Linked DNA regions of Homo sapiens. The protein of the gene in region 1 interacts with the protein of each later gene in a pairwise test. Each region holds a gene or a part of one and is shown on either strand. Other genes may lie near its edges.

Evidence for each region. The genes of interacting proteins can lie anywhere in the genome.
Region 2: the proteins of PRM2 (region 1) and SEPTIN12 interact in a two-hybrid assay, tested with the Homo sapiens proteins (one study listed by IntAct).

The regions. Positions count from the first base shown.
Region 1 is NC_000016.10:11,275,132-11,278,246, forward strand, and holds PRM2 (protamine-2), read right to left. Parts: upstream 1,350-3,115; 5' UTR 1,240-1,349; coding exon 969-1,239; coding exon of another isoform or gene 931-968; exon of another isoform or gene 922-930; intron 851-921; coding exon of another isoform or gene 807-850; coding exon 769-806; coding exon of another isoform or gene 699-768; 3' UTR 508-698; downstream 1-507.
Region 2 is NC_000016.10:4,786,283-4,790,031, reverse strand, and holds the start of SEPTIN12 (septin-12), read left to right. Parts: upstream 1-1,686; 5' UTR 1,687-1,752; exon of another isoform or gene 1,753-2,115; intron 2,116-2,364; 5' UTR 2,365-2,386; coding exon 2,387-2,552; exon of another isoform or gene 2,553-2,563; intron 2,564-3,749. UniProt on the Homo sapiens protein: Filament-forming cytoskeletal GTPase. Involved in spermatogenesis. Involved in the morphogenesis of sperm heads and the elongation of sperm tails probably implicating the association with alpha- and beta-tubulins.

The DNA.
Region 1 (3,115 bases):
GTGCTGACCAAGTTGTTGCTGGAGCATGCCAGACCTGTTTCCCACCTCGAAGCTGTGGCCTGCACTGAGCAGTGCCCCCACCTCTGCCCCCACCGTTTACACTTCCAACCACCCAACACTCAAGATGGGTTGTGTTTTTAAACTGTGGCACACAGTAGGCATTTAAATATGGCCACAAGGTGCCTTGGCATCTTTGTGACTTAATTAGGACTCGATCTGTTCTAACCATTTTCTCCTTTCATGAGGTAGGATCAGGTTCTTCACTGGAGGGGGATCCAGACAGACTAATGTGGCCTTTGACACCATGGAAGGATGCACAATAGACAGGACAGCATCATAGGGTGGCCTCCCAGGCACAGTAACCCTCTCCTAGGTGTCCTGAGAGCATCAGAACTCCCGCCCTACCTGCCTCTGAGGAAGGGCTGCAGAGAAGCCTCTACCCGCCCTGGGCGTGAGGGAAGCCAGGTTTGTGTGATTCGTGCAAAGAAAACCCGACAGGCCAGCGAGTGTCTTGTCAAGCTTTATTGGGCAGGTGACTTTTGCTCGTTTCACTCAGATCTTGTGGGCTTCTCGGCGGCAACTCAGGGCTTGAGCATTTGATGTAGGGGAGTTGCTATGGCCTCACTCGGTGTTTCTTGGGCAGGTGACTTTCTCTTAACTTCCAGCTGGGGGCTTGAGCATTTGATGTAGGGGAATTGCTATGGCCTCACTTGGTGTTTCGGGCGACTTTTTCTTAATTTCCAGCTGGGGGTGAGGGGCCCAGGAAGCTTAGTGCCTTCTGCATGTTCTCTTCCTGGTTCTGCAGCCTTTTGGGAAAGAAAGTTCTGGTTGAGGGGGTCACCTAGGGACTCTGGGTGGGGACGGGGGTTAGGGGGCTGGAGCTTTTGTCAGGTGGGGTGGGTCCCCGCCTCCCTCCTGTGCCTGGGGTGGTCAGGGACATGCAGGGCAAGGCGGGGGCGCAGGCAGACCTCTGCGATGCCTCCTCCGGTGCCTGCAGGAGCGTCTTTTGCGCCTTCTGCAGGAGCGATGCTGCCGCCTGTGGATCCGGTGCAGCCTCCTTCGAGAGCAGTGTCTGCGCCTATAGTGAGACTGGCCATGGGTCCTCTCGTAGACCTCGACGTGCTCCGGGCTCAGCCCTTGCTCCTCTTGGCCGTGGTGTCCTTGCTCTTGCCCATGCAACTGCTGCCTGTACACCTCGTGCGAGCGTTCGCTCAGGCTCCTCACGCGGTATCGGACCATGGTGTTGGGAGATCTGGTGGCTCCTGGGCTGAGGCTGCAGTGGGCCCTGGAGTAGGGGAGGAGGGCGGAGGCCTGCCCACCTGCCCTTGGTGTTACTGTTGGTCTGGTCTGCAAGGCTCCCCGGGAGCTTGTATATAAAGGGGGCGCCCACTATGACTCTGCGGCCCCGCCCAGTCCCCACCCTGCCCAGCCTCCTCTGTGAGGGCAGCACAGGGCCAGGGGTCACAACTAGCAGGGCCCTGGCACCCAAGCTGCAGGGCTGGAAGGGCGAGAGACCCCCTTGCCTTGCCTGTAAAGCATGTCCTCTGTCTCTTGCAGTAGGTGAACCATACAGATGGCAGGTGTTTTATTGCCTAATCCAAGCCCTCATCTCCCCAAGCCGGTGGGTGCGCACATTGTCATTTGGAAGCTTCCTTGCCAACTCACTGCTGTGCCACAGCCACCATGTGGAAGGGACTTCCGTGCTTGGATCTCTGTGCACACAGCTTACTGTTAAGATGGCAACAGCAGCAAACAGTTCCCTAATAGCTCCTATGTGCCAAGCATTGATTCATTTATTTCCCATACATTCACTCATTCTCTCTCTCTCTCTCTCTCTCTCTCTCTCTCCTCTTTTTGTTTTGAGGCACTGTCTGTCGCCCAGGCTGGAGTGCAGTTGTGCAATCATGGATCATAGCAGCCTCTACCCCTCCAGCTCAGATGATCCTGCCACCTCAGCCTCCCGAGTAGCTGGGACTATAGGCGTGTGCTGCCACTCCCAGCTAATTTTTTGTATTTTTTGTGGAGATAGATAGGGTTTCACCATGTTGCCCTGGCTGGTCTCACACTCCTGGCCTCAGTGAGCCTCCCATGTCGGCCTCCCAGAGTGCTGGGATTACAGGTGTGAGCCACCACCCTTGCATTCCTCACTCTTACAATCCTCATTTTCTGTGGGGCAAACAGGCATGAAGAAGTTGAGTTGCTCAAGGCCACTCTGCTGAGAAGGCCAGGCCGGGCCAGCATTCAGACGGAGACAGCCTGGTTTTAGTCATACCCTTGGCTCTCCACCTCCTCCCTAGCCCAGGGAATGCTCCCCTCTCCGCCTCCAAAATATTCATCTTCTCCCCTCCCGCTCGGCCTTGCCGGGGCTTCTCATTGAACTTTGATGATCCCATTAAAGTCCGGGATCAGAATCACAGAAACTGCAAAACCAGTTTCCCTTTCATGGAGGGCAGGGAGAATGTGGGAATGTGGCAGATACACAAATTTAAGGACTTGAAGATGCAGAGATCATCCCAGATGATCTGGGTTGGCCCAGTGCAGTCACGAGGGTCCTTAGAAGAGAGAATAGGGAGGCAGGAGGGTCACAGGAAGAGAAACTGGGAGACACCACACTGCTGGCTTTGAAGATGGAGGGAGAGGCTATAAGCCAAGGGATGCAGGCGGCCTCTAGAAGCTGGGATGGACAAGGAAATGGGTTATCCTCCCCTCGTGCATCCAGGAGGAACACAGCCCTGCTGACCCCTTGATTTTAGCCCCATGAGACTTCTTTCAGAATTCTGACCTGCAGACCTGTAAGATAATGCATTTATGTTGTTTAAAGCTACAAAATTTGTGATGATCTGTCACAGTGGCAATAAGAAACAAATTCAGGAGGCTTAATCTTCAGATCCTTACAGGAGGTGATGGGTGATATTGCCATGCCCTTGGTGTTTCTATGCTGCCTCTCTTTAGGGATAAGAAGGTCCTTTATGATGGCCCTCAAGCTCTTCGAGGGCGCGTGTTAAAAATATGAATGCTGAGGCCTTACCCTACGTCCCGCTAAGTCAAATCTCCATGGCCAAAGCTTGCAGATGAAAATAAGAAGGGGCGGGGCAGGGCTCGGTGGCTCACACCT
Region 2 (3,749 bases), 6.5 Mb from region 1:
GGGGCAGGAGGATCACTTGAACCCAGGAAGTCGAGGCTGCAGTGAGCTGTCATTGTGCCTCTGCACTCCAACTTGGGTGACAAAGTGAGACCCTGTCCCAAAAAAGAAAAAAAAAAAAGAAAGAAAAGAAAGGAGAAAAGAAAGAAAAAAGAAAGAGAAAACATTTGCCAATAGCAAGGACACAGGAATGCCTAAGCCTTGTGAAGTCAAGTACCAGGAAACAAGAAAGAATTAACTGTGTGAGATGGACTTGGTATAAGAAACAGCTTATCAGGCTGGGCATGGTGGTTCACGTCTGTAATCTCAGCATTTAGGGAGGCTGAGGTGAGAGGATCACTAGAACCCAGGAGTTTGAGACCAGCATGGGCAACATAGTGAGACCGTGTCTCAAAAAAATTTTAAAAAGGGCTGGGCGCAGGGGCTAACGCCTGTAATCCCAGCACTTTGGGAGGCCGAGGAGGGCAGATCACGAGATCAGGAGATCGAGACCATCCTGGCTAACACAGGGAAAACCAGTCTCTACTAAAAATAGGAAAAAATTAGCCGGGCGTGGTGGCAGGCGCCTGTAGTCCCAGCTACTCGGGAGGCTGAGGCAGGAGAGCGGCGTGAACCCGGGAGGCAGAGCTTACAGTGAGCCGAGATCATGCCACTAAACTCCAGCCTGGGTGACAGAGCGAGACTCCGTCTCAAAAAAAAAAAGAAAAAAAGGAAAAAAGAAAAAAAAAGGCCAGGCATGGTGGCTCACTAATCCCAACACTTTGGGAGACCAGGGTTGGTGGATCACTTGAGGTCAGAAGCTTGTGACTAGCCTGACCAATGTGGTGAAACCCCTTCTCTACTAAAAATACAAAATTAGCGTGGTGGTGCACACCGGTAATCCAGCTACTTGGGAGGCTGAGGCAAGAGAATTGCTTGAACCCAGGAGGCGGAGGTTGCAGTGAGCCGAGATCGCGCCACTGCATTCCAGCAAGGGCAACAGAGCGAGGCTGTCTCAAAAACAAACAACAAAAAAAGAAACAGCTTATCAGAGAGACAGTAAGGCAGGGGTGAGGACCACAGTCTGGAAAGCACATGGCCTATTTAAAGAGGGCATCTCAAGTCAGGGTGATAACCTCTAAGATACACCGGAAATCTAGATGTTTCTGTAAACCAGAAAAAGGCAGTAGAGGGTGAGCACACAGACTCAGAGCGGCAGAGACTCTGCCACCTCCTCACCTGACCCTCTCTTATCTATCAGCTTGGGGTAGTAACAGCACTTACTTCACAGGGCTTGATTATTAAACAAGTTAACATCTTTGGGCTCCTAGAACGATGCCATGTGCAGAGTCAGGACTGGGTAAATATTTGCTAAAGCAATCTCTTCATGTTTTTGACGCTGCAACTTAAAACACATGGCGCCAATCGTGGACACGGATATCCCGCTAGCCAGCTGTGGGGCCTGGGTTTGCTCACCCCAGCAGAGTGGTTGAGGGCGTCAGCTTGGAGGTGGGAGCCCAGCTGACGAGGGGGCCTTGGGCCCCTGGTTCTACTTGGGGATTATTGTATTATTAGGCTGGGGTCATTGTGGGGATTAGAAGGGTAACAGCTCCTGCTCCTGCTGCAGAGAAGCCTCCAGGTGGGGGTCACAGCAAGTGCAGATGGAGCTCAGATTCTTCGGTTAACTGTCACCCTCTCCCCTCCCCCATCACACACACCAGGCCCTGCCAGGACAAGGCAGCTCCTGGAAGCTCCACCAGGACCCACGTCCACCAGGTGTCACAGCAGGCTGCTTCTCTCTCTCTCTGCCCCCCGTGGGCTCTTCGCACCGCTCCCTCCCAGCCATCTTCCCTGCCTGACCTTGGTCTCTCTCTCTCTGTCTCCGTCACCTTCATGCCTGTGCCGTCTTTCTCGCTCTCTATCAACTCTGCTGTGTGTCCCCCTGGGGAAAGTGGGGGCACCTCCTCCTGAGCCCCCTGCCCAAGTTTCCTGCTGGGACGGGAGCCACTTCACCCCATACACACTCCCTGAAGCCCCTCCAGGACTCCAGCCTGGCTGCAAACACCCATCCTGGACTTTGCCTGGCCCTCCAGGCTCTGCTGGGGGAAGCGACCTGAGAGGCCCCTGCCTGGGCTGTAGGTGGGGACAGGGCAGACCCTTGGGCAGCGGAGCCTCTCTGGATGGGTGTTGAGGCACCCTGCAGAAACAGCTCCCCACAGGCACCCTTGCCACACCCCTGGGACTACAGGCACTTAGGGTACACCAGAGGCATGAAGTGTGGAGGGGGTTGGCCAACGGCCAAGCTCAAATAGGGGTTCAGATAGGAGAGGTCAATGTGGGCTCCTCTGAGCCCCAGTGACCCCCTTCTCCCCACCCACCTGGTGACAGGCATCTCGAACCCTTGGCCCCCATGGACCCCCTGAGGCGCTCCCCCTCTCCCTGCCTGTCCTCGCAGCCCTCCAGCCCCAGCACCCCACCCTGCGAGATGCTTGGTCCTGTGGGCATTGAGGCTGTGCTGGACCAGCTGAAGATCAAGGCTATGAAGATGGGGTTTGAGTTCAACATCATGGTGGTGGGTGAGTGAGAGGTAGGGCCCACGGCAGGACAGACCCACAGTGCTACGCGTGCCTGGGCGTGTGGCCTCACCTTTGGCAGCCTGTCGCCCCTCCCCATCTCTTAGGTGGGCCTGATAATAGCACCTCACAGGGATGTTGTCATTGAAAATTTGAGAAATGCTGAGTCATTAAAAGACAAAAATGTGCCTGGAGCGGTGGCTCACACCTATAATCCAGGGTTTTGGGAGACTGAGGTGGGTGGATCACTTGAGCTCAGGAGTTTGAGACTAGCAAAACCTAATGTCTACAAAAAGTACAAAAATGAGGCCGGGCATGGTGGCTCAAGCCTGTAATTCCAGCACTTTGAAAGGCCAAGGCAGGAGGGTCACTTGAGGTCAGGAGTTCGAAAACAGCCTGGCCAACATGGGGAAACTCCGTCTCTACTAAAAATACAAAAATTTGCCAGGCGTGGTGGTGGGCGCCTGTACTTAGGAGCTACTTAGGAGGCTAAGGCAGGAGAATTGCTTGAACCTGGGAGGCAGATGTTGTAGTGAGCCGAGATTGCGCCACTGTACTCCAGCCTGGGTGACAGAGCAAGACTGAAGCAGAAGGATCCCTGGAGGCCAGGAGTTCATGACCAGCCTAGGCAACACAGCAAGACCCCATCTCTACAAAAAAAATTTAAAAATTAGCCAGGCATGGTGACATGCACCTGAATCCCAGCTACTTGGGGGGCTGAGGTGGGAGGATCGTTTGAACCTGAGGGTGGAGGTTGCAGTGAGCTGCGATCACTTGAGTCTGGGTGACAGATTGAGACCCTGTCTTAAAAATTAAAAAACAGTGCAAGGCCGGGTGTGGTGGCTCACGCCTGTAATCCCAGCACTTTGGGAGGCTGAGGCAGGCGGATCATGAGGTCAGGAAATCAAGACCATCCTGGCTAACATGGTGAAACCCCGTCTCTACTAAAAATACAAAAAAATTAGCCAGGCGTGGTGGCGGGCGCCTGTAGTCCCAGCTACTTGGGAGGCTGAGACAGGGGAATGGCGTGAATCTGGGAGGCGGAGCTTGCAGTGAACCGAGATCCCACCATCGCGCTCCAGCCTGGGTGACAGAGCGAGACTGCGTCTCAAAAAAAAAAAAAAAAAAAGCAGTGCAAAAATCAGCTGGGTATGGTGGCGTGTGCCTACAGTCCCAGCTACTAGGGAGGCCGAGGTGCGA